5 separate regions of the Homo sapiens genome follow, and all the other regions are linked to region 1. The links come from fine-mapping of genetic effects on gene expression. A gene starts in region 1. Each other region holds a variant in brackets. All regions are shown on one strand. Distances are between the middles of the regions. Region 1 holds the start of EXD3 (exonuclease 3'-5' domain containing 3). Region 2 overlaps EXD3 (exonuclease 3'-5' domain containing 3). Region 3 overlaps EXD3 (exonuclease 3'-5' domain containing 3). Region 4 overlaps EHMT1 (euchromatic histone lysine methyltransferase 1). Region 5 overlaps LOC124902318 (a long non-coding RNA gene).

Region 1 (5,101 bases):
AGGCACGCAGCCCTGATGTGGGGTGGCGGCTCAGGGCCAGCAGAACCCACCTGTCTGCCCCAAACGTCACGCAAGGCTCCTAACAAGAGACAGCAGTTCCAGCGACACCCTCTGCACCCTGGGCTGCCCCTCACGTGATCGGCTTTATGAATCATAGCTGTTCCATCTGCTTTCCTAAGTTCCCATATTCCTAACATGCATATGCTGTGGGTTAGTCGTATGACTTTCACTGCGTCCCCTCTCTGTAGTGAAACCAGGCACAAGAGCACAAGTGACTGGGTTAGCCCCGGACATAGGATTTGTTGCTGAACCACCTGGTGTCTAAAGATTACATTCCCTTTCTTGGATAACATTTTAAAATGAAATCATTGTGGGCCGGACAAGGTGGCTCACATGTGTAATCCCACCACTATGGGTGGCCGAGGAGGGTGGATCACCTGAGGTCAGGAGTTCAAGACCAGCCTGACCAACATGGTGAAACCCGTTTCTACTAAAAATACTAAATTAGCCAGGCGTGGTAGTGGGCGCCTGTACTCCCAGCAACTAGGGAGGCTGAGGCAGGAGAATTGCTTGAACCCGGGAGGCAGAGGTTGCAGTGAGCCAAGATTGGGCCACGGCACTCCATTCAGCCTGGGTGACAGAACGAGACTCCATCTTTGAAACAAACAAAAAAATGAAATCATTATGGAGGTGATTGTAAATTTGTACGCAGCTTTAAGACACAAGAGAGGGGGGTCTCATGCGCTTTGCCCAGTCTCCTCCAAGGGGGATATTTTGCCAGTCAGGGGCGTGGAGACCCTCCCACAGCGCGCAGTTCCCTCTCCTTTAAATCACTGCTGTCACCGAGCCTTCAGTAACCGTGGGCACCTGCCTGCTTCTGCGGGGTGCTTGGGACTGAGCGGGGGTGGGCAGCGCTGGCGTTTGGGATGCGCAGGAACAGGCGGCCCCGGAACGCGAGGGGGCACGAGAAGGGCACCGGGCTCCGTGCAGGGCCTCGGCCGCTGCACCCTGGCACCCTGGACTCCTGGCTGTTTCGGGGAGTGGGCTGGGGGAGGGCTGAGGGCTCTGAGGAGGAGACTGACCCGGTCTCCCGGCCATGACCACAGGCGCAACGCTTTCCCCTTAGGGCAGGGCGGTCCCTCGGGCCTGACCCAGCCCAGCAGCTTCCCCCTTCCCGGTGTGAGTCACCCTCGGGCCCCGGCCTCTCCCGGTGACCGCCGCGCCCCCCAGCGCGGCCTCGCTTAGCTCAGGTGCGGCCCCCCTGCTCGGCTCCCACCTGCCGGGGCGTTCGCTGGGTCGGGGGCGGCAGGGCGACCCCGTGACGGTCGGGGAGGGGCGCTGGGCCCTCCCCAGGGGCTCGAGGCGGAGGCGTCGCCCGCACCGGCCTCCCCACGCCCCGCTCACCCGCAGCGCGGCCTCGGGGTCCCCGGCCAGCAGGTGCACGCAGCCCGCGTTGAAGCACAGCCTGGCGGGCGGCGCCGGGACGCCCGAGAAGAGGTGCAAGGCGCGGGCCCAGTCCCCACGATCCACAGCCTGCGCGCCCAGGTGCCAGGCGCGCACCAGGTCCCCCAGAGAGGCCATGGCGGCCGGTGGCGGCGCTCGAGGAGGGGCCAGGATCCCGCGGAGGGGCCGGGGCCGGGGCCAGGCGGCGGCGCGGGGCTGCGGGGTCTCCGAGGCGGGCAGAGGTGCGGGCGCCAAGCGCCAGGTGCAACCCCGCTGCCCCGCGGCGCCCCCTGGCGGCAGGCGCCCGCCCCTCCCCGGTAAGGCCACGCCCCCGCCAGAAACGGCTACGCCCACTCCAGACCCTCAGGCCTCGCCCACCTCCCATTCGGCCCCCGCCCCGGCCGGACTTCCGCCGGGAGCTTTGTGCGCCCGGCTTCCTCGCCCCGCCCGCGCTGGCCTTGGTGCGCCGGATAAAGCCCTCCGGGCCAGCGGCTGCGGTCGGGCCAAGGTTCCGCGCCGGGCGTGGACGGTGTGGGGCGGTCCCGGCCCCGCAGGTGAGCGACCCCGGGCCGCGCGGGCCAGGTGGGCGGTCTGGGCGCCGGGGGCAGAGCGGGGCCGGGCCGGGTGCGCGTCCTGAGGTGAGGGCCGTAGCTGGGAGTGAGCCGGGGGCGGGCCGCCGGCTCTCCCGGGGTGGGGAAACTGAGGCCCCGATGGGGCGGGGAAGGTGCGTTCTCCCGCAGGGCCCCGCTCCGGAGGCCGCCGAGCAGCCGGACGCCGCGGGGAGCTGAGCCGACCCCGGCGACCCCGCCGCCCTGTCCCGCAGGGCCTGCCCTCCTCCGCGCCTTCCGAGCACGGACATCACAGGACCCGGAGGCCCTTCGCTCCCTCGCCGAGGAGGAGGCGCTCCCGGTGGGACGCGCGCGCGCCCGCCCTGCCCTCCCCGGGAGAAGGGACGGGCGCCTCCCTGCAGGGGCCCTGGCTTCCTGTCCACCGGCGCTGAGTCCTGTATTAGTTGTCAACCTAAAATAATTAAAAGGGTCAGAATGTGGTGCCCGGTGGGTTTATTCAGGCACAGAGGTCGAGGGCGGCCTGGGTCACCAGGTGCAACGGAGAACAAAACAGAGGCTCAGGTTTTTAAAGAAAACAGAGCCCATCGGAGAGCAGGTGGTTTCGAACGTTGCCCAGGAGCTCACTGGCTTGTAGAAATGGCATTGGTTCGCGATTGACCACGGCTTGGTGTCATCAGTGGATAGTTACTTGGCTCGAGGGGTAGTGAGGGGCTGCGGTTTCATTTGAAATGCTTTCTGGCACTTAACATCAAGCTTTCTGGGCCCACAGTTTAAAAGGGCTTTACATTCCTCAGATAAATGATTTTTTTCTTTCTCATTTGCCCCCCTTTTGATCAAAATCTTTCTTCTTGAAAGCATTGATTATCAAAATCTGAGGGTCAGAGTGTCCCCTCTTGCTGGGAAGGCTCATTCCCACATAGTCCTGTCCCATGCCAAGCAGGGAAGGAGGAGACATTTCAGGGAGTTTTTTTTTTTTTTTTTTTTTTAAGAACACCACAAACTGAATTGGAATGGCATTACAGGGTGGCAAACATGAGGTCTCAGTGAAGTCATTAATTTATACAACTGCTGTCACCTGTTGAATCATCTCTAGTTTTTAGAAACACCATTAATTTTAATTTTCTCAGAAGTAACACATAGGACTATAACCAATTTGTATGCCAGGATGAAAAAAACAAACCTGTTCCATTAGGGAGACAACTAAAAACATGAAGAAACTAAAATCCATGTTCTTCTTTCTTTTTATTTATTTGTTTACTTAGAAATGGGGTCTTGCTCTGTCACCCATGCTGGAGTGCAGAGGCACGATTCCCACTCATCGCAGCCTTGAACTCTTGGGCTTAAATGATCCTCTTGTCTTAGCCTCCTGAGTACCTGGGAATACAGGTGTTTGCCACCAGGACCGGCTAATTTTAAATTTTTTTGGTAGAGACTAGGTCTTGACACCTTGCCCAGGCTAGTCTCGAACTCCTGAGCCCAAGTGATCCTCTCATCTGGGCCTCCCAAAGTGCTGGGGTTATAGGTGTGAACCTCTGCCCAGCCAGGTTCTTCTTTGAGACTTGTAGCCAGAAGATTGTTCAGGATTTAGTCCAGATTGTAGGAAAATAAAAAATACAATGATCAGGGCTAGAATCCAGTAACAGGTATGCTGTAGTTTTTCTCTGAAACATAATTTTTCTCTACTTCCCCATTTCTACCAAAGATAAATCTTGGTAAGACCAATTTACTTGTAAAATAAATTTTAGGATTATATTTGGCCTGATTATTTGCCTAAAGTACAACAGTGGTGATTGGCCATATAGGCTCCTTTCTAAACTGGCTGGAACTTTGCCATAAGGAATTTCAGACTTTTTTTCCCCACATCAGACAGGTAATGTGCTGGCGTCATAACAGCGTTTGAAGGAGACAGACCCTACACATGAGGCAATCATCATGCTTATGAACTACAAGAGGGTCAGAATAGACCTTTAAAAGCCACTTGAGGGCTGGGCATGGTGGCTCATGCCTGTAATCCCAGCACTTTGGGAGGCCAAGGTGGGAGGATTCATTGAGCCCAGGAGTTTGAGACCAACCTGGGCAACATAGCGAGGTCCCTGTCTCCACAAAAAATTTAAAAATTACCTGGGCATAGTGGTGCTCACCTGTAGTCCCAGCTACTCAGGAGGCTGAAATGGGAGGATCGCTTGAGTCCAGGAGATTGAGGCTGCAGTGAGCTATGATCGCACCACTGCACTCCAGCCTGGGTGACAGAGCGAGACCCTGTCTCTAAACAAAACAAACACTTCCCATGTCTAGGAAGCCAAGCCAGTGGCTCCCCATCACAGTGTATGTATAATACCTGTATGAATTTGGGGGGGGGGGTGAATGTCTGTCCTCCAGGTCCCAAACTATCTTGAAGTTCCTGGATCTGTCGGAAAGTGACATTCTTTCCTTACCTCAAGGCCAAGAACCTTTTAAGGGAACTATGTAAACAGGGCACCAGTCCAGTCATCCCAAGGGGCTTTTTATTGGCTCTATAAAGCGAACCTCGATTCCTCAAAGCAGTCTCGTCATATCCAAAAATACGTCATCCCAGTCCAAGCCTTGGTAGAATAACCAGGGTCTCCAATTGTGTCCTGTTACAAGGACAACAGATTCTTACTGAACTCATGCAAAGAACTACATTGCCATAAAATAAGAATACTCATGAATCGCTTCCAGATTTTTGAGAAATCAGGTAGAGAAAAAGACAAATATTTCAGTTTTGCTCACAAAAGTATATGTCACTCAATTGCTATAGCTATAAATAGCTCAAAAAGAAAAAGGTTTTCTGACTCTGGAAAACAAAATATAAAAAGAGTCAGCAAGGTTTCGATAACAACAAAAAATCATAAAAAGCATTTCAGGCCTCTATCAGTTCAGTTCTATGTAATTTGCTGGGGTTTTTTTTGTTTTTTTTTTAGGCGGAGTCTCCCTCTGTCGCCCAGGCTGGAGTGCAGTGGTACAATCTCGGCTCACTGCCAGCTCCGCCTCCCGGGTTCACGCCATTCACCAGCCTCAGCCTCCCGAGTAGCTGGGACTACAGGCACCTGCCACCATGCCCGGCTAAT
Region 2 (5,101 bases), 64 kb after region 1:
TCTTTGTAAGGCTTGAAAACTTTTCCCTGTAATGTGTTCAGGTGGCCCTTCCTCTGCTTTGTGTGAGTTCCTCACACGCAGGGTGCTCTTTACTTGGGCGAATTCTCAAGGGCGCTCCCTGCAGAGCTCCACAGCTCTTTTTCTGGGCATCTCTTCTCTGCGAACTCAGGGAAGCACCCAGTGTCTCCTGGGTTCCCCTTCCCTCGCATGTTGCTGGAAGTTTCTCCAGGAGGGAAGATGGAGCGATTGGCAGCCTCGCTTCCCATCACTCGGGCATCACTGCCCTGAGCCACCTGTTGCCTAATGTCTGAGAACTGCTGTTTTTATTCAATACTGTACCAAGGACCCATGCCAGGCGGGAAGGCAGGAAAATAAGTGCAAAGACCGGGTACAAAGAAACAACTGTCATTTTCTCAGAAGATATGTTTTTATATGTAGGGAAGGAAAACCAAAAAATCTACAGATAAATTATTAGAATTAATAAGTAAATTTAGCAAGATCACTGGTTACAAGGTAAGTTTATAAAAGCCAATTGTATTTCTTTATACTTGCAATAAAGCTTTCTCAAATAGGATATAAAATCACTAAGAATAAAGGCTGGGTGCGGTGGCTCACACCTGTATTCCCAGCACTTTGGGAGGTTGAGGCAGGCGGATCACTTGAGGTCAGGAGTTCCAGACCAGCCTAGCAAACATGGTGAAATCTCGTCTCTACTAAAAATACAAAAATTAGCTGGGCATGGTAGCAGATGCCTGTAGTTCCAGCTACTTAGGAGGCTGAGGCAGGAGAATCACTTGAATCTGGGAGGCAGAGATTGCAGTAAACCGATATCGTGCCATTGCACACCAGCCTGGGTGACACAGCGAGACTCCATCTCAAAAAAAAAAAAAAAGAAGAAGAAAAGGAAGGAAGGATGAAAGAAAGAGAATAACAGAAGAAGATTGACAAATTTGACTTAATACCTTCTGGACGTCAAAGGAAATCATTGAGAGAGTGAAAAGGCAACTTCCAGACCAAGAGAAGATTATTTACAGTACATATTTTACAAAAGACTGTATCCAGAGTATTTTTAAGCAAAAAACCTACAAAGCAAATAAACAATAAAAGACAAAACAAACCAAGTTTTTAAATGAGCAAAAGCCTTGAATAAGCACATCACAAAAGAGGATATCCAGATAGCCAATGTAGGAAAAGTTGCTAAGCACCATTAATATCAGGGAAATGCAAATTAAGCCACAAAGAAATACCACCACCTCCCATCAGGAAGGCTAAAATTTAAAAGTCGAACATACCAAGTGGTGACAAGGACATGGAGCAACCAGAACCCTCACGCACTGCTGGTGGGATGTGCACTGGTGCAGACACTTCAGAAAATTATTTAGCAGTTTCTACTAAAGCAAAAAAAGTATGCCAACCCTATGACATATGTTGTCCGAGTCCACTTAGCATATGCCCGAGAGAAATGAGCTCATTATCCACAAAAGATCGCAGTCATGGCAGCTTAATCATCATCTGTGAAACACGGGAGCAGCCCTAGTCCCCAGAGCAGCAGTGGATGCAGTGATCACGGTTCACAAACTCAGCTGTGAGAGACTGAACCTCGTCACACTCAGCAGCGTGGACAGAGACTGCATGGAAGAAGCCAGATCCAAAAGTGGCAAAGTGTCCCTATTCTATCATTCCATTTGCATCAAGTTCAAAATCGGGCAAATAATCTCTGGCCATAGAAGTCAGAGAAGTGTGGGATGGGGATACACAGAGATGGACACGGGAGAAACTTTGGGGTGCTGGAATGTCCTTTATTTACATTTTACTTTAGAGACAGGGTCTCACTCTGTTACCCAGGCTGGAGTGCAGTGACACAACCACAGCTCACTGCAGACTCAACCTCCTCGGCTCGAGCGATCCTCCTGCCTCAGCCTCCCAAGGTGATGGGATTACAGGCGTGAGCCACCGCACCTGGCCTGGAACGTTCTATGTTGAGATTTGGGCAGTGGGTTTACCGGTGCATTTGCACCCATGATTGGCATACCTTACCGTGTGTCACTTATACCTCAGTAAATAGTTTATCTTAAAAAGTAGGCCTTGGCCGGGCACGGTGGCTCACGCCTGTAATCCCAGCACTTTGGGAGGCCGAGGCAGGCAGATCATGAGGTCAGGAGATCGAGACTAACCTGGCTAACACAGTGAAACCATCCTGGCTAACACAGTGAAACCCCATCTCTACTAAAAATACAAAAAATTACCCAGGCGTGGTGGCGGGCGCCTGTAGTCCCAGCTACTCTGGAGGCTGAGGCAGGAGAATGGCATGAACCCAGGAGGCGGAGCTTGCAGTGAGCCGAGATGGCACCACTGCACTCCAGCCTGGGCGACAGAGCAAGATTCTGCCTCAAAAAAAAAAAGTAGGCCTTGCCAGGTGCAGTGGGAGGATCGCTTAAGGCCAGGAGTTTGAAACCAGCCTGAGCAACGTGACAAAACCCCGTCTCTACAAAAAATACAAAAATTAGCCAGCCGTGGTGGGGCATGCCTATAGTCCTGCTACTCAGGGCTGAGGTGGGAGGGTCACTTGAGGCCAGGAGGTTGAGGCTGCAGTGAGCCTTGATCACACCACTGCAGTCCAGCCTGGGGGACAGAGTGAGATCCTGTGTCAAATATATACATTTAATTTTAAAAAAGTTTTAAGTAGGAGTTACAGTTTAAAGTGGCAGTTAAACACAAGCATCTATTGCCTCTTTGCTTTAAAATGAAGACAAAAATTTCAAGAGAATAAGAGGGGAGACGGGAGCTGGAACCCGGAAGACAGATGTCCAGGCAGCGACTGTCCTCGGAGGCCTGAGAGTGCTGAACCTGCAAATGCAAGGAGCCAGTTGGCTTCGGAGCCCCCGGGAGGCACAGGAAGTGGAGGCCCAGATTCCTCCAAGAAGCTGGGCTGGAAACAGGGTCTCCAGGGGGTCTTTGTGAGCGGCACGGTGTTCTGGCCACAGCTGAGGAC[A/C]GGGCTGGGGCTCCGTGCTGAAACCAGGAGGACACAGGTGAGACCCTTGCTGGAGGTGCACAGACGCTTCTCAGCCCACAGCACCTCTGGCCTTCCAGGGCTACCAGGCCACGCCGTGCACACAGGGAGGTGGTTCCTCTGCAGGGCAGTGTTGGGCAGGAGCAGTTAGGGCTGTGGGGCCTCTCGCCAGCCACACGCATGCTAACACTAACACACTGGGATGGTTAACACTGAGTGTGAACTGGATTGGATGGACAGATGCAAAGTATTGATCCTGGGTGTGTCTGTGAGGGTGTTGCCAAAGGAGATTCACCTCCGACTGAGTGGACTGGGAGAGGCAGACGCACCCTTAATCTCAGTGGGCACCGTCTCATCAGCTGCCAGCAAGGCTGGAATATAAAGCAGGCAGAAAAACATGAGAAGGCTAGATGGGCCTACCCTCCCAGCCTACATCTTTCTCCCATGCTGGACGTCTCCTGCCCTCGAACATCAGACTCTAAGTTCTTCAGCTTTGAGACTCGGGCTGGCTCTCTGTGCTCCTCAGCTTGCACATGGCCTATTGTGGGACCCTGTGATCGTGTGAGTTAATACTTAATAAACTCACCTTTATATATATATACACATATATATATATCCTGTATATAATATATATATGTATATATATCCTATGAGTTCTGTCCCTCTAGAGAACCCTAATACAGACACTAAGCTGGAGCTTGGAGGAAGCAAAAGAAACCTTAAAAGCACAAATGCTGTAACTAAGATACTGCGTCTGTGAAGTGGAGATGGGGGCCCCACAGAAAGAGCTTTCAGACTGTAGGACAGAACTTGGTGGATGAAGGACAGGATGGGAAATGAAAGCTCAGTGGGAGGTTTGGAAATAATTTGAAGTTGTCTTCCAAAAAGCAGTACAAAATACATAAAGAGAAGGAAAATCAAAGAGAAAAGATGTTTAAAATTGGAGATTCTGTCAAGAAGGTCCAACATACAAATAACTGGGATTCCAGGAAGAAGGGAGAGCAGGGAAGGAAACTCCTAAGTAATTCATCGCTGACAGGTTTCCAGATGTGAGGCCACGGGAGCCCCCACAGGAGCCGGACTTAACAGGTTTGTGGAGTGGCCAAAGGTGGGTGGAGAGAGACCCCCTGTGGGGCACGTTGTCATGAAGTTTCTCAACACTAGTGAAAATGGAAGAGCCTCAAAACCTCCAGAAGAGCAGGCCACATCAGAGGGGCAGGAATAGGAATGGGTTCTGGGGTCTCAACAGCAGTTCTGGGAGCCAAGCCTGCCTGTGCTAAGGGAACGTTATCTCAACCCAGAAGTCTTGGCTCCACTGAACTCTCAAGCTGGTGTGCAGCGGGCACAGACCCTGGAGGTGCACATCTCCAAAAATACCCCGTGGACCTTATCTTGGGAAACACCCAGCGGCTGTGCTTCACCACTACCTGGAGGTCGGAGGGTGTGGACCAGGGCATGGGGGTGTCAGTCCCAGGACCTTGCAGGGCAGGAGCTAGAGAGTGGCTGGAGGGGCAGGAGGAGCCAAGTATCAAGGGACCAGGATGGGTAACTGAGAAACAACAGAGCCAGATAAGCATTAACCCTGAAAGCAGCAGCAGAAGGCTGGGCCGTTGAGGCCGTTGCACAGCCAGAATATCACCAGTGAGGAAGGTGCTGATTTAGCTAAAACTCTAATACTGTTATTTCGGGAGTCCACCTTCCGTGGGGAGAAGTCAATACCAAATACCCAGAAGTCAACAATCAAGAGATCACAATCCAAGGATGTTATCTGGAAATGTGGAGGCAAATACACAACCATTTCAATGTCGACCTCCAAGTGCTAAGGATGGGGTGGGCGGGGGGCGGTGACGCCTGCATTTTCTTATAAACCTCACTTGAGGTTTAAACTATGCATGCATATGACTATGATGAAAATGAAAATCTTAAAATGTATTAACTTAAAACAGCAACAGAGGCTGTGCCTCTCTCTCCCCACAGACGGTACCCTGAGGTGACCTCCTTGAGCCTGGAGAAGCTGAGTCCGAAGGCGCTGAGCAGGCAGGTCTTGCGTCTGCAGGAGCGGTACGGCGTAGCCCCAGGTGAGTCCAGCCC
Region 3 (5,101 bases), 100 kb after region 1:
AGGCAGAGGCCACCCTGGAGGACAAAAGGGGCCTGGGGCAGGGCCACGATCCGGGGAGCTAGGGGGTGGCGAGCAGAGGTGGCCCAGTCCAGGAGCACGGAGCTGCCCCCTTTATGTGCTGGTCGCACCTCCCACACAGGTTGCCAGGCAGGAGGGGAGGATCATTCTGACGTCGGGGCAGCCATTCCACAAGGTGAGTGTCCCAAAGATAAGCTCAGTGGGCCTGAGCCCCATCTTCCCAAGCCCCCAGCCCCTCGGCCACCCCCACCTCAGGGTCAGCTTGCCGTGGGGCCGACCCCCAGCGCCTCTGCCGTACCCCTGGTGGGCCGAGAGAAGGCTCCTGCCCCATGCTGGCGGAGGCGGGCTGGGCCTGGGCAGGTGCTGGGCTCTGCACTGCCCCTCAGTAGCCGAGCCGTGTCTTTGCAGCTCCGGGCCCAGGTCGGGGCTGGGCGCTGCCTCTCGGTCGACTGCTCCCTGAAGGCCCAGCAGCAGGCCAAGGCTGTGCTCAAGCATTTCAACGTGCGTGTCACCCACGCAGACATCTTCAGCCGCTGCCAGGTGGGTCCTGCGCACCCCGTCCTACCTGGGGCTGGCACAAGATCTGGAGCTACGGGGGTGTCCAGGGAGGTGGGCCCCACCCTAGACAGTGGTGGGTCTGGGGTGGGGTGTCGGCAGAGCATCCCTCGTGGTCCAGGGTGAGGTGTCGGCAGAGCATCCCTCGTGGGTCCGGGGTGAGGTGTCGGCAGATCATCCCTCGTGGGTCCGGGGTGAGGTGTCGGCAGATCATCCCTCGTGGGTCCGGGGTGGGGTGTCGGCAGATCATCCCTCGTGGGTCCGGGGTGGGGTGTCGGCAGAGCATCCCTCGTGGGTCCGGGGTGGGGTGTCGGCAGAGCATCCCTCGTGGGTCCGGGGTGGGGTGTCGGCAGAGCATCCCTCGTGGGTCCGGGGTGGGGTGTCGGCAGATCACCCCTCGTGGGTCCGGGGTGGGGTGTCGGCAGATCATCCCTCGTGGGTCCGGGGTGGGGTGTCGGCAGAGCATCCCTCGTGGGCCCGGGGTGGGGTGTCGGCAGATCACCCCTCGTGGGTCCGGGGTGGGGTGTCGGCAGATCACCCCTCGTGGGTCCGGGGTGGGGTGTCGGCAGATCATCCCTCGTGGGTCCGGGGTGGGGTGTCGGCAGATCACCCCTCGTGGGTCCGGGGTGGGGTGTCGGCAGATCACCCCTCGTGGGTCCGGGGTGGGGTGTCGGCAGATCACCCCTCGTGGGTCCGGGGTGGGGTGTCGGCAGATCACCCCTCGTGGGTCCGGGGTGGGGTGTCGGCAGAGCATCCCTCGTGGGTCCGGGGTGGGGTGTCGGCAGAGCATCCCTCGTGGGTCCGGGGTGGGGTGTCGGCAGAGCATCCCTCGTGGGTCCGGGGTGGGGTGTCGGCAGAGCATCCCTCGTGGGTCCGGGGTGGGGTGTCGGCAGAGCATCCCTCGTGGGTCCGGGGTGGGGTGTCGGCAGAGAATCCCTCGGGGGTCCGCGGTGGGGTGTCGGCAGAGCATCCCTCGTGGGTCTGGGGTGGGGTGTCGGCAGAGAATCTCTTGGGGGTCCGGGGTGGGGTGTCGGCAGAAAATCCCTCGGGGGTCCGGGGTGAGGTGTCGGCAGAGCATCCCTCGTGGTCCGGGGTGAGGTGTCGGCAGAGCATCCCTCGTGGTCCGGGGTGAGGTGTCGGCAGAGCATCCCTCGTGGTCCGGGTTGAGGTGTCGGCAGAGCATCCCTCGTGGTCCGGGGTGAGGTGTCGGCAGAGCATCCCTCGTGGTCCGGGGTGAGGTGTCGGCAGAGCATCCCTCGTGGGTCCGGGGTGAGGTGTCGGCAGAGCATCCCTCGTGGGTCTGGGGTGAGATGTTGGCAGAGAATCCCTTGTGGGTCCGGGGTGAGGTGTCGGCAGAGAATCCCTGGTCCAGGGTGAGGCGTCGGCAGAGCATCCCTAGTGCAGGCTGGCATGGCCACGGGGACAGCTCCAATCAGGCATTGGCTTGGATTTGGGGAATTCCCTCTGGCTCCCATGGGGCTTCTAGAAGGAATCGAGGGAAATTGTGGAAGTCCCTTCAGGCTGGGTGGGTCCCACTTTCCAAAGGCAACACGCAGGACAGCCTGCGTCTGCTTGGTGACGTCTAACAAGGTCTGGGCAACAGAAGCCCTGAGTGGGAACTGCCGCACCTCGGTGGAGATCCATAGAGGAGGCTGGTGGGGGCACCAAAGCCCAACTCACCTCTCTCCCTCCTCTCCTGTCCCCAGTGGGGGACTGGGCTGAGGCACCTGCCCAGGGCTGCACTGTCCAAGCTTGCTATGCCCCACACCAACTGGCACCTGGGCATGGCCAGTCTGGGGGGAGTTGATGCTGCCTTTTGCGCCTCCACTCAAGGCGCCAGGGTCTCCGTGGGCGACACGGGAGCAAGGGGGACTGTGGGCTGTGCTGGCTCTCGGCAGTTCCCGGTGGAGGGTA[C/T]GGGCTGCTTCCAGAACGTTCCGCAGTTAGGGCCACATCAATATTCCGCCTGGAGCAGCAGGTCGGGGCTGCTCCAACAAGCCCAGTTTTGTTTCCTGGGGTTTTTTGGGGGTGGGACGGAGTCTCACTCCATCGCCCAGGCTGGAGTGTAGTGATGTAATCTCAGCTCACTGCAGCCTCCGCCTCCCAGGTTCAAGCAATTCTCCCACCTCAGGCTCCTGAGTAGCTGGGATTACAGGTGCCCACCACCACGGGCGGCTAATTTTTGTATTTTTAGTAGAGACAGGGTTTCACCATGTTGGTCAGGCTGGTCTTGAACTCCTGACCTCAGGTGATCTTCCTGCCTCAGCCTCCCAAAGTGCTGGGATGACAGGCGTGAGTAATCCCAGCCTCCCAAGCCCAATTCTGGGGGAAGTTTTGGGACCCCCTCATGGAGGGAGATCCCCTCATGGAGGCCACTGTCAGGGTCCCTGCTGGTGCCTGGGCTGGGCAGGGAGGGGCCCTGAGCTCAGCTCCACCCCATGGTCCTCAAGGGCACCCACCTGGCTGAGCAGAAACAGATGCAGGCCTGCGCCTTCTGCTACCGCCCTTCTGCCCCCACAGCCTCAGGCTGGGCCTGGCGGGGATTGAAGCAGGAAGGAAAGAGGGAAAGCTCCGGCTCGGCTCGGATCTGCAGCCGGCCAGGCACCTGTACACACAGGCCCCTGGACCTCCCACTGCCCCTGGCCTGGGGGTGCAGTCTGACCCTCTGACCCCACTGCCCTGCGGGGACCGCGGCCTCTGCCTCAGGTGGCAAGGAAGTGTGCTCCAGGGGCCTCTCCTGCAGCCTTGGGCTCCAGGGGCGGCAGGAACCGCGTCCGCTGCCTCTCTTTGTCTGTGCTCAGGCCAGCAAGCGCTGTAAAGACCCCAGGATGTCCGGGACGCCTGGGGAGGCATGTTAATGAGCTGTTCAGAATCGGCTGCTGCATTTTCTTGAGAAAACAGGAAGTTGGGTAGCTGGGAGGAAACCCCTGCTGGAGCCCTGGCCAGCCGGGTGCTGGGGAGTGCCCCTGAGGACCCAGGCCAGGCATGGAGGGGCCGCCAAGCCCTGCATGGAGAAGGGTGTCCAGGGTGTGAGGCAGAAGGGCAGACTTTGGCCTGGCTGAGTGGATGGGATGGGGGCGTCGGGGGCTGAGCAGTGGGGGCCGCCCTGACCCATGTCCGCCCTGCCTCTTTGCTGGCTACTGGCAGCTCCAAGCTGCTGATGCCACTCTGCCACCCACACCCTGCAACCCCCAAGCTGCCCCTGCTGTGGCAAGCAGGAGCGCCAGGCCCAGGGGGGCTGCAGGTAGAGCAGGCCTGGGAGGGGCTAAGGCCAGAGCTGCACCCCCGTGGGGGGCCAGCAACTGTCCAGGCTGGAGAGGGCAGCGCCAGCTGTCCAGGACCAAGGCAGTGAGGGAAGGAGCATCTGGATCTGAAAGACTGCAAACAGCCGGCGGGGAATTTGGCCTGGAGGGTACCCTGGGCCCTGGCTGCAGCCCCAGGCAGCGACCTGCCACCTGTGCCAGCCCCTCTGTCTGGGGGCAGGACGTGGGGAAGGGGCGGGGGGGCTGCCTTGGCCCCACGGACTGCCCGGCCAGGGGCCTTGCAGACATATGCGTCTCTGTGTGCACATCCCGCAGATGCTGGGTGGTGTGCGGTGAGGACAGAACCAAGCGTTCCCCCTGCCCGCCCCGGCCTGGGAGCAGAGCACATGCTGGCAGCCACACCAGAACCTGAACCCCCTGGTGCAGGGCTGGCAGGAGCGGGTGCTGGTCCATGCAGAGCCCCACGTGTATGCGCCACATGCGGCCTCAGGTCGGAGCCCAGGTGGGAGGGAGGCCCTTGTTGGGGCTGGGGACCCTGCTGGGCCCTAGCAGGATGCCCTTGGGCAGGTGACAGAGAGCTGTTGGGAGAGGGCCCCCCATGTGCACAAGGGTCCCTCAGGGCCAGTGCGATGGGGCCAGGAGAGCAAGAAAGGGGTCTATGAGAAGCTGAGATGTCTACATTTGAAGCCAGCCTTCCAGGTCACCAGGTGGGAGAATGGAGCTTGCTTTGCACAAGTGCCTCAGCCGGGTGGTGGCCCAATGCCCACAGCCCAGGGTCCCATGTGCGCACCCGCCTCCTTGGCTCTGGAGTCCCGAGAGGTGCTCAGGGCCTGGAGGGCCAGGGCCCCAAGCCACACATCCGTGATGACCATGTGCTCTAGAAAGTTCTTCCTAGGGCTGGGCAGGCTCAGGCCACGTTCCCACCACCCACTCCAGCAGCACTGCAGCCTCAGTGCTCCCAGCTGAACCCTGGGAGCTTGGCCTGAGCAGGCAGCTGGGAACACCACTGATCGGCCACCCCACACACTGGCTGCCCCATCCCTACCCCAGAGGTGAAGAGAGGCCCATCCTCAGGGCCAAAGAGGTAGGCACGGGCAAAACAATGGAGGCCGGGCCCCGGGACCACGCAGGCCCAGCTCCACGCAGCTGCAGACCCCGGGCCTGCCACCGCAGCCACAGTGCAGGGCTCGGCTGGCTATGACCCATCTGGACACCAGAGGGCTGCTGGCCATCACTAGCCAGCAGAGAGCGGCACGCTCAGGCTGACG
Region 4 (5,101 bases), 380 kb before region 1:
AAAACTTAGCCAGGCGTGGTCGTGCGCGCCTGTAATTCCAGTTACTCGGGAGGCTGAGGCAGGAGAATGGCTTGAACCTGGGAGGCGGAGGTTACAATGGGCCAAGATTGCACCACTGCACTCCAGCCTGGGCAAAAGAGTGAAACTCTGCCTTAAAATAAACAAATAAATAAATAAATAAATAAATAAATAAATAAATAAGTAAATAAAGCCATTGGTATAACTGTATTCTATAGGTTCGAAAGTTAAGTAGAAACATGTTAGGAAATGTTTGAAAGACTCCAACAGAACTTTTAGAGCTGAAAACGACAATGCCTAGAATGTAAGCACACAGACCGGATGAGCTCAACAGCATCACGTGCAGAAGAAAAGATGAGTGGACTAGAAGACAAACCAACAAAAACCTGCTCAACTGAAACACAGAGGGAAAAAATAATAATTTAAAAATTGAAAAGAGCACCAGTGAGCTGTGGAACCACTCTGAGAACTCCTACATACACAGCTGGAATACTGGAAAGCGTGGTGGGCAGAAAACATTATTTGAAGAAATAATGACTGAAAAATTTCCAAATTTGTCAAAAACCCTAAATCCACAGATCCAAGAAGCTCAATGAACCCTACGTGCACACACACAAAATAACACCAAAGCACTTCAGTAATCAAATTGCTTTACAGACAAACTAAGGCTTAGAGGAAAATCCAATTGCTAAAACCAAGAGATACAGAAAAAACATTTTAAAAGCAGCCATATAAAAAAGACACATTATACACAGAGAAATAACTGTGTGGTGGCACTGGATTTCTCACTGCAAACACTGCAGGTGAGGACCCAGGGAAACCGCCATTTAAAGCATTGGAAGAAATAACTACGCATCCAGAATTCTAAGAATATCTTTCAAAGATGAAAGCAAAATAAGGACTTTCCAGGCATTAAAGAGCTGTAAGAGGGCTGGGCACAGGGGCTTACGCCTGTAATCCCAGCACTTTGGGAGTCCGAGGCGGGCGGATCATGAGGTCAGGAGTTTGAGACCAGCCTGGCCAACATGGTGAAACCCATCTCTACTAAAAACACAAAAATTTCCCGGGCGTGGTGGCCAGCGCCTATAATCCCAGGTACTCAGGAGGCTGAGGCAGGAGAATCGCCTGAAACCTGGAAGAAGGCGGTTGCAGTGAGCCAAGATAGCACCACTGCACTCCAGCCTGGGTGAAAGAGCAAAACTCCATTTCAAAAAAAAAAAGCTGCAAGAGCTCATCACAAGCAGACCAACACCACAGAAAAGGTAAAGGGAGTGAGGCCAGCGGAAGGGAAGCAACATCAGGAGCATGAGCCCACCAAGGTGGAGAAGCGTGGCAGGGACAGGGATGGGGATGGCAGGAGCAACTGCAGAGCTCTTCTGCAGTCTTTCAAACAGACCACTCGGCTGGGCGTGGTGGCTCATTTCTGCAATCCCAGCACTGTGGGAGGCCAAAGCGGGCAGATCACCTGAGGTTGGGAGTTTGAAACCAGCCTAGCCAACATGGTGAAACCCCCATCCCTAATAAAAATACAAAAATTAGCCAGGCGTGGTGCCATGTGCCTGTAATCCCAGCTACTTGGGAGGCTGAGGCAGGAGAATCGCTTGAACCAGGGAGGTGGAGGTTGCAGTGAGCTATCGCACCACTGCACTCCAGCCTGGGTGACAGGGTGAGACTGTCTCCAAAAAAAAAAAGAAAAAACCAGGCCGGGCACAGTCGCTCACACCTGTAATCCCAGCACTATGGGAGGCCAAGGTGAGTGGATCACGAGGTCAGGAGTTTGAGACCAGCCTGACCAAGATGGTGAAACCCCGTCTCTACTAAAAATACAAAAATTAGCCAGGCGTGGTGGCTCGTGCCTGTAATCCCAGCTACTCAGGAGGCTGAGGCATGAGAATAGCTCGAACCCGGGAGGCGGAGGTTACAGTGAGCCAAGATCATGCCACTGCATTCCAGCCTGGGCGACGGAGCAAGACTCCATCTTAAAAAAAAAAAAAAAGACCACTGACTGTTTAAACAGAATAACTACATGGCTATTATGGTGTTCAGAACATATATATGTGTAAAATATAGGAGAATAGCAGTATCAAGTTTGGGAGGAGAAAAATGATTTTGCAAGACCTACTGTAAAGCTACATCAGTCAAGAAAGGACAGTACTTGCCTAAAGGCAGATATGCAGATCAATGCATCAAAAGAGAGGGCCCTGGAGCTGACACACACATCTGGACGACTGACTTTACACACATGTGGACAACTGACTCTGACATGTGGA[C/T]GACTGGCTCACACATGCGGATGACTGATACATACGCAGACAACTGACATGGATGACCAACTCATACATGTGGACGACAGACTCACAGACATGCAGATGACTGACTCATACATGCAGATGACTGACCCTTACATGTAGACAACTGACACACATGTGGACTGACACATGGACGACTGACAGACATGCAGATGACTCACACGTGGACGACTCACACGTGGACGAATGACACATGCAGATGATGGACTCACACATGCGGATGAGAGACACACACATGCAGATGACTGACTCACACATGCAGACTCTCACATGTGGACGACTGACAGACATGTGGACTGACACATGTGGACGACTGACAGACATGCAGATGACTGACTCACACATGGACAACTGACACATGTGGACACACATGCAGATGACTGACACACATGGACGGACTCATACATGGATGACTGACAGACATGCAAATGACTGACACATGTGGAATAACACATGGGTAACTGACTCACAAATGCAGACAACTGGCTTTTGGCAATGGTACAGAGTCAATTCTATGTAGAAAGAATGGTTTTCTCAACAAATGGCACTGAACTAGGCATCCATAAGCCAAAAAAAAAAAGTTCAATCCATACCTCACACCACATACAAAAGTCAACTATAATAAAACACAGACCTAAATGTAAACCCCCAAACCATAAAACTCGTATAAGAAAATGTGGGAGAATATCTTTGGGTTCTCAGATTAGGCAGTGATTTCTTAAACAGAACGCCAAAAACAGGATCCAGTTAAAAATAAAGAAAAACGTTGATAAACCAAACTTTATAAAAACTTTTAAAATTCTGCACTTCCAAAGACAGATCTGTAAACCATATATCTGATAAAGGACTTATATCCAGAACATGAACTCTTAAAACTCCAGAATACCCAATAATAAGCAAGAAAAATATTTGAACAGACACTTCATTAAAAAAGATATATGGATCGTAAATGAGCCCATAAAAAGATGCTTAACATCAACTGTCATTAGAGAAATGAAATGAACTGAAAACTAAAACCACAAGATATCACTACACACCTATTAAAATGGATAAAAGTTAAAGACTGACCATGCTAAGTGTTGGGAAGGATGCGGAGGAACCAGGACTGTCTGATATGGGTTGGCTCTGTGTCCCCACCCAAATCTTGTCTTGAATTGTAATCCCCATGTGTCAAGGGAGGGACCTGATTGGATTATGGGGGTGGGTCTCCCATGCTGTTCTCATGTGAGTGAGTTCTCACAAGAGCTGGTTTTAAAGTGTGGTACAATGCTCCTCAATCTCTCCTGCCACCATGTAAGACGTGCTTTGCTTCTCCTTCACCTTCTGCCATGATTGTTAAGTTTCCCGAGGACCCCCCAGCCACGCTGAAGGGTGAGTCAATTAAACCTCTTTTGTTTATAAATTACAGTCTTAGGTAGAACCCTGATAGCAGTGTGAGAACGGATGAATGCACTCTCATACACTAGAGATGGTACAATCACTTGGAAAGCAGTTTGGCAGGTTTTTTTTTTTTTTTTTAATTTTTGAGACAGGCTGGGGTGCAGTGGTGCGATCTCAGCTTACTGCAGCCTTGACCTCCTGGGCTCAAGCGATCTTCCCACCTTAGCCTCCCGAGTACCTGGGACCACAGGTGTGTGTCACCATGCCTGGCTACTGGCAGTCTCTGAAAATGTTAAGCCTAGACACCTGTCATATGTTCTAACCATTCTACTCCCAGGGGTTTAATCAAGAAAAATGAAGGCATGAGTATTCACAGCATCTCTCTTAGTAACCACCAAAAATCAGAAACAACCTAATGTCCACTGATAGGTGAAGGGTAAACAGACACATTCACACAATGGGCACTTCAGGCAACGAAAATGGGGATCTCGGCTTAAGGACGCGAGGGAAAGCTGCCCATGGTGAGAGCCCTTTTCTATAAAACCGAGACACGCAGACAACAGAAAGCCCAGCAATGGGTGGCAGGGGTGGGCTGGGCATGGCTGTGAAGCGCGGAGGATCACCTGAAGATCATCAGGGCATGAGGGAGGACTGGGCTCACTCTTCCGACAGCAACAATGGCTTCTGGGTGAAAATTCACCCAAGTGTGTACTTTGAATATATGCAGCCTACCTATTATACAGCAATAAAGTGGTTAAATTAATGAAGTGTTTCATTGTATAAATAACAAACTTGAAATTTAATCAATGCTTCCATTCTGGGGGAACAGCCACCAGCATCAGAGAGCTAACAGCTCTGACACCTGGACAGGCTGCAAACTGCCCAGGCATGCAGGCCGACCAGCCACACTAGGGCCGCCTTCCCCGCCACGCAGTCTCCGGGGGCGGTGGGTGAGGTGGCCCCACCTGGGGGTGGCCTCTGCCTTGTTCTCTGCCTTTGCTTCCCTCCTCTCTTCCTCCAAGGTACCCGCCACAGCCTTCCACCAGCTCAGGGCTCCTCTGCTTCCCTCTTCTCTTCCTTCTGCCGGCTCAGGGCTCCTCTCTTCATGGTGCCGTCATCCTAACCCGCAGTGGGAAAGAACTCCGGTGGAATGAGGTAGAAACCCCCTGGATACAGTCATGGAAGCCCTGCAGCCCACGGAGGAGGCACTGCAGCTCAGGACCAGTCACTCCAGAGAGGCCTGCGTGCCTGCAGGGAGGCAGCGGGTGCCCACAGCCAGTGGTCCCTGTTTCTAGGTGGGAGGTGGGGTCTGCTTACATGCAGCGAGGGGTTCCAAATGCAGACCTCCCCGTGCCAACAATGAATGGCAAGGGCCCGTGCCCACGCCGTTCTCAAGC
Region 5 (5,101 bases), 170 kb before region 1:
CCCACCACCATGCCCAGCTAATTTTTGTACCTTTAGTAGAGACGGGATTTCACCATATTGGCCAGGCTGGTCTCAAACTCCTGACCTTGTGATCCACCTGCCCCAGCCTCCCAAAGTGCTGAGATTACAGGCATGAGCCACTGCGCCAGGCCAACACTGCAACCTCCGCCTCCCGGGTTCAAGCGATTCTCCTGCCTCAGCCTCCCCAGTAGCGGGGATTACAGGCATGCAACACCATGCCCGGCTTATTTATTTATTTATTTATTTATTGAGACATAGTCTTGCTCTTGTCACCCAGGCTGGAGAGCAGTGGCACAATCTCAGCTCACTGCAACCTCTACCTCCCGGGTTCAAGTAATTCTCCTGCCTCAGCCTCCTGAGTAGCTGGGACTGCAGGCATGTGCCACCACGCCCAGCTAATTTTTTTTTTTATTTTTAGTTGAGATGGGGTTTTACCATGTCAGTCAGGATGGTCTCGATCTCTTGACCTTGTGATCCCCCCATCTCGGCCTCCCAAAGTGCTGGGATTACAGGCGTGAGCCACCATGCCCTGACAATTTTGTATTTTTTTTAGTAGAGATGGGGTTTCTCCATGTGGGTCAAGCTGGTCTCGAACACCTGACCTCAGGTGATCTGCCCATCTCAGCCTCCCAAAGTGCTGGGATAACAGGTGTGAAACACTGCGCCTGGCCCCAAAAATTTTTAAATATGGCGTTGACTTTGGAACCATGCAGCAGGAGGGGTCATGAGAAAGTTGCTATTGCAGGCTGGAGAAAGTGTAGACTATTTACCTTCCAGCAAGACCATTGCCTGTGGAACGTGGCGGACAGAAAGTGCATGCTGTGATCTGACTTTCCTGACATAGAGTTTAAAGGGCCAATTGACTTCTTTCAGTTATTTATGAGAAAGTGAAAGTAACAAAAGAAAGATGATCTGAATAAACTCTCTTGGCCCGGCACAGTGTCATACGCCTCTAATCCCAATGCTTTGGGAGGCCAAGGCAGGAGAATTGCTTGACCCCAGGAGGTCTAGGCTGCAGTGAGCCGTATTTGCACCACCGCACTAAAGCCTGGGAGACAGAGGGGGACCCTTTCACCCCAGAAAAAAAAGAACTTCCCCAAACTCCCACCAACACACCTACTAGCCTTTCTAGAACCTTCACATTGGCTACTGCCAAGGTGCACCGCCCTGTCCGACACAGCTCGTCATCCCCTCTCCTCTGCAGCCAATGCCTCATCCCTTTCCACCATCGTCCCCATGGGTGAACATCAGTGCCATGTCCCCTGCACCACGAATGTGCTCCTGACCTCCCCCCTCTTCCAGCCTCAGCTCCCTTCACTGCTCCTTTTCAGCAAAATGCTGCAGAAGAGCCGTCCATCTCAGCCTGCAACTCCTGTCCCTCATTCCTTCCGACACCCTTGGACATCTTCCCTCACCCCTCCACTGGCACTGTACTTCTCAAGGTAACGGGGGTCCCCTGTGTTGCTAAATCCATTGATTCATCCCCAATCTTCACTTTACCAGACCCAGCAGCAGCTGGGGCTGCCTTGCAGGCCTTCCTCCTACTTCACATCTTTGTTTTCTACTGAGTCCTCTTCTTTCCAATCTCTTTCCCCCTTAGTATGATAGTATTAAGTATCCCTTCTCTTTTTTTAAATGATACTCAATCTAGCATTTTAAAGAAATGTAATGTGCATTTTTTGCTGTTATAGTCATAATACATAAACTTCAATAAATACCATAGAACTTTTAAAAACTAAAAATTAACTTCCCGGCCGGGCGCGGTGGCTCATGCCTGTAATCCCTGCACTTTGGGAGGCTGAGGCGGGCGGATCACGAGGTCAGGAGATCAAGACCATCCTGGCTAACATGGTGAAACCCCGACTCTACTAAAAATACAAAAAATTAGTGGCGGGCACCTGTAGTCCCAGCTACTCCGGAGGCTGAGGCAGGAGAATGGTGAGAACCTAGGAGGCGGAGCTTGCAGTGAGCAGAGAGCGTACCACTGCACTCCAGCCTAGGCAACAGCAAGACTCTGTCTCAAAAAATAATAATAATAATAATAATAATAATAACTTCCCATACTTTTCTGATAAAGATTACAACATACTTCAAGCACATGACTGTTTTTACTTAAAAAGTGAGTTTTATCTTTTTCTTGTTTACTTCACATACTACACTGATGTAAATATCCTTTTAAAAATTTTATTTTGGCCGGGCGCGGTGGCTCACGCCTGTAATCCCAGCACTTTGGGAGGCC[G/A]AGGCGGGCGGATCACGAGGTCAGGAGATCGAGACCATCCCGGCTAAAACGGTGAAACCCCGTCTCTACTAAAAATACAAAAAATTAGCCGGGCGTAGTGGCGGGCGCCTGTAGTCCCAGCTACTTGGGAGGCTGAGGCAGGAGAATGGCGTGAACCCAGGAGGCGGAGCTTGCAGTGAGCCGAGATCCCGCCACTGCACTCCAGCCTGGGCGACAGAGCGAGACTCCATCTCAAAAAAAAAAAAAAAAAAAAAAAAAATTATTTATTGAATGTAAACTTTTATTATTTTTTTGGATATAGTATCTTCCTCTGTCGCCCAGGCTGGAGTGCAGTGGCATGATCTTGGCTCACTGCAACTTCTGGGTTCAAGGGATTCTCATGCTGCAGCCTCCCAAGTAGCTGGGATTACAGGTGCCTGCCAGCACACCTGGTTAATTTTTGTATTTTTAGTAGAGATGGGGTGTCTCCATGTTGGTCAAGCTGGTCTCGAACTCCTGACCTCAGGTGATCCGCCCTCCTCGGCCTCCCAAAGTGCTGGGATTACAGGTGTGAGTCACCGCCCTGGCCCTAATTTTTGTTTTTTTAGTAGAGGTTTACAAACAGGTTTCTGCCATGTTGGCCAGACTGGTCTTGAACTCCTGACCTCAGGTGATCCACCCACCTCGGCCTCCCAAAGTGCTGGGATTACAGGTGTGAGCCACCACACCCGGCCTAACTTTAAACTTTTACTTTAGGTTTGGGGATATGTGAGGTTTGTTACATAGGTAAACACCTGTCACCAGGTTTGTTGTACATATTATCTCATCATCCAGGCATTAAGCCCAGTATTATTTTCTTCTTCGTGTTCATAAGCTCTCATCATTTAGCTCCCACATGTAAGTGAGAACATGTGGTATTTGGTTTTCTGTTCCTGTGTTAGTTTGCTAAGGATGATCGCCTCCAGCTCCATCCATGTTCCCACAAAAGACATGCTCTCATTTTTTTATAGCTGCATAGTATTCCATGGTGTATATGTACCACAGCTTTTTTTTTTTTTTTTTTTTTTTTTGAGACTGAGTCTCGCTCTGTCGCCCAGGCTGGGGTGCAATGGCGCAATCTCGGCTCACTGCAACCTCCACCTCCTGGACTCAAGCGATTCTCCTGCCTCAGCCTCTCAAGTAGCTGGGATTACAGGCACACACCATCACGCCCAGCTAATTTTTGTATTTTTAGTAGAGATGGGGTTTCACCATGTTGGCCAGGCTGGTCTTGTACTTCTGACCCCAGGTGTTCCACCCGCCTCAGCCGCCCAAAGTGCTGGGATTACAGGCGTAAGCCACTGTGCCCGGCTGTACCACATTTTCTTTATCCAATCTGTCACTGATGGGCATTTAGGTTTTTGTTTGTTTGTTTGAGATGGAGTCTCACTCTGTAGCCCAGACTAGACTGCAGTGGTGGCATGATCTTGGCTCACTGCAACCTCCACCTCCCGGATTCAAGTGATTCTCCTGTCTCAGCCTCCCAACTACCTGGGATTACAGGCAACTGCCAGTACACCCAGCTAATTGTATTTTTAGTAGAGATGGGATTTCACCATGTTGGCCAGGCTGGTCTCGAACTCCTGACCTCAGGTGATCTGCCTGCCTCGTCCTCCAAAAGTGCTGGGATTACAGGCCTGAGCCACCGGGCTGGCCAGCATTTAGGTTGATTCCATGTCTTTGCTCTTGTGAATAGTGCTGCACTCTCTACATCCACGTTTTCCCTCATGGTAATCTCATCCAGTTTTATGAGTTTTGCCATGGTTTGAATGCTTGTGTCCCTCCAAAATTCAGGGTCTCACTCTGTCACCCAGGCTGGAGGGCAGTGGCCCCATCACAGCTCACTGCATCCTCAACATCCCCAGGCTCAGGTGATCCTTCCACCCCAGCCTCCCAAGTAGCTGTGACTACAGGCATGGGCCACTATGCCTGGCTAATTTTTGTTTTTTGTAGAGACAGCATCTTGCCATGTTGCCCAGCCTGGTCTCAAACTCCTGGGCTCAAGCGATCCACCAACCTCAGCCTCCCAAAGTGCAGGGATTACAGGTGTGAGCCACTGCACCTGTCTCTAAGAGAGCTTTAAATATAATAAATGTGCTAATGATGCCAAACTTTTTTTTTGTTTTTTTGAGACAGAGTCTCACTCTATTGCCCAGGCTGGAGCGCAACGGCATGATCTTGGCTCACTGCAACCTCTGCCTCCCAGGTTCAAGTCATTCTCCTGCCTCAGCCTCCCGAGTAGCTGGGAATACAGGTGCGCACCACCACATCCGGCTAATTTTTGTATTTTTAGTAGAGACAGGGTTTCACCATGTTGGCCAAGCTGGTCTTGAACTCCTGACCTCGTGATCTGCCCGCCTCGGTCTCCCAAAATGCTGGGAGTACAGGCGTGAGCCACCGCGCTCAGCCATGATGCCAAACTTATATTCCCAGGCTGGACATCTCTGTGAACTCTATACTCACATATTCTACTTATACATTCAACTGCCTTGTAACCTTAACATGTAGCATAAGTAACACATTTTTATTTGGCTAAGCCGCTGAGAACTTGGGGTTGTTACTGCAGCATACCCAGGCCCATCCTGACATACACACCCCTCCACCACAGGTCCAAACATCACCACTTACCAGGAGAGGTCGAGTGTCCCTTATCCAAAATGCTCGGGACTAGAAGTGTTTCAGATTTTGGATTTTGGACTCTTTGTATTATACTTGCCTGATGGCGCTTTCCATATCCAAAATCCAAAATGCTCCAATGAGCACTTCCTTTGAGTGTCATGTCAGTGCTTACAAGGTTCAGATTTTGCAGCATCTCAGATTTCA

What was found. PIP is the estimated chance that this variant, and not a neighbour inherited with it, causes the effect. A credible set is the group of variants that fine-mapping cannot tell apart.
Region 2: its variant is the best candidate, but not a certain one, in a credible set for the expression of EXD3 in whole blood (TOPMed, PIP 0.71).
Region 3: its variant is the best candidate, but not a certain one, in a credible set for the expression of EXD3 in cerebellum (GTEx, PIP 0.59).
Region 4: its variant is the best candidate, but not a certain one, in a credible set for the expression of EXD3 in whole blood (INTERVAL, PIP 0.73).
Region 5: its variant is the best candidate, but not a certain one, in a credible set for the expression of EXD3 in CD4 T cells (BLUEPRINT, PIP 0.89).

What each region holds. Positions count from the first base shown.
Region 1 is chr9:137,420,010-137,425,110 of GRCh38, reverse strand. It overlaps EXD3 (exonuclease 3'-5' domain containing 3), which reads left to right and starts at 1,949. Exons shown (of 22, transcript NM_017820.5): 1 at 1,949-1,997. NOXA1 (NADPH oxidase activator 1) reads right to left here and starts at 1,718. Exons shown (of 14, transcript NM_001256067.2): 1 at 1,405-1,718. The coding sequence starts at 1,581. It also overlaps the pseudogene LOC124902354. RefSeq lists silencers at 1,488-2,047, 2,068-2,207, 2,218-2,357.
Region 2 is chr9:137,356,255-137,361,355 of GRCh38, reverse strand. It overlaps EXD3 (exonuclease 3'-5' domain containing 3), which reads left to right. Exons shown (of 22, transcript NM_017820.5): 8 at 4,988-5,088. Among named protein-coding and RNA genes, the nearest start is that of NRARP, 57 kb to the right of the region's middle. The variant A/C (reference allele first, on the strand shown) is at 2,993.
Region 3 is chr9:137,319,182-137,324,282 of GRCh38, reverse strand. EXD3 (exonuclease 3'-5' domain containing 3) reads left to right here. Exons shown (of 22, transcript NM_017820.5): 18 at 140-193; 19 at 427-558. Among named protein-coding and RNA genes, the nearest start is that of NRARP, 19 kb to the right of the region's middle. RefSeq lists enhancers at 2,694-3,327, 3,328-3,962, 4,597-5,101. The variant C/T (reference allele first, on the strand shown) is at 2,488.
Region 4 is chr9:137,802,579-137,807,679 of GRCh38, reverse strand. The region is part of intron 18 of EHMT1 (euchromatic histone lysine methyltransferase 1); the gene reads right to left. Among named protein-coding and RNA genes, the nearest start is that of MIR602, 33 kb to the left of the region's middle. The variant C/T (reference allele first, on the strand shown) is at 2,289.
Region 5 is chr9:137,594,903-137,600,003 of GRCh38, reverse strand. The region is part of intron 1 of LOC124902318 (a long non-coding RNA gene); the gene reads left to right. Among named protein-coding and RNA genes, the nearest start is that of ZMYND19, 6.9 kb to the right of the region's middle. The variant G/A (reference allele first, on the strand shown) is at 2,261.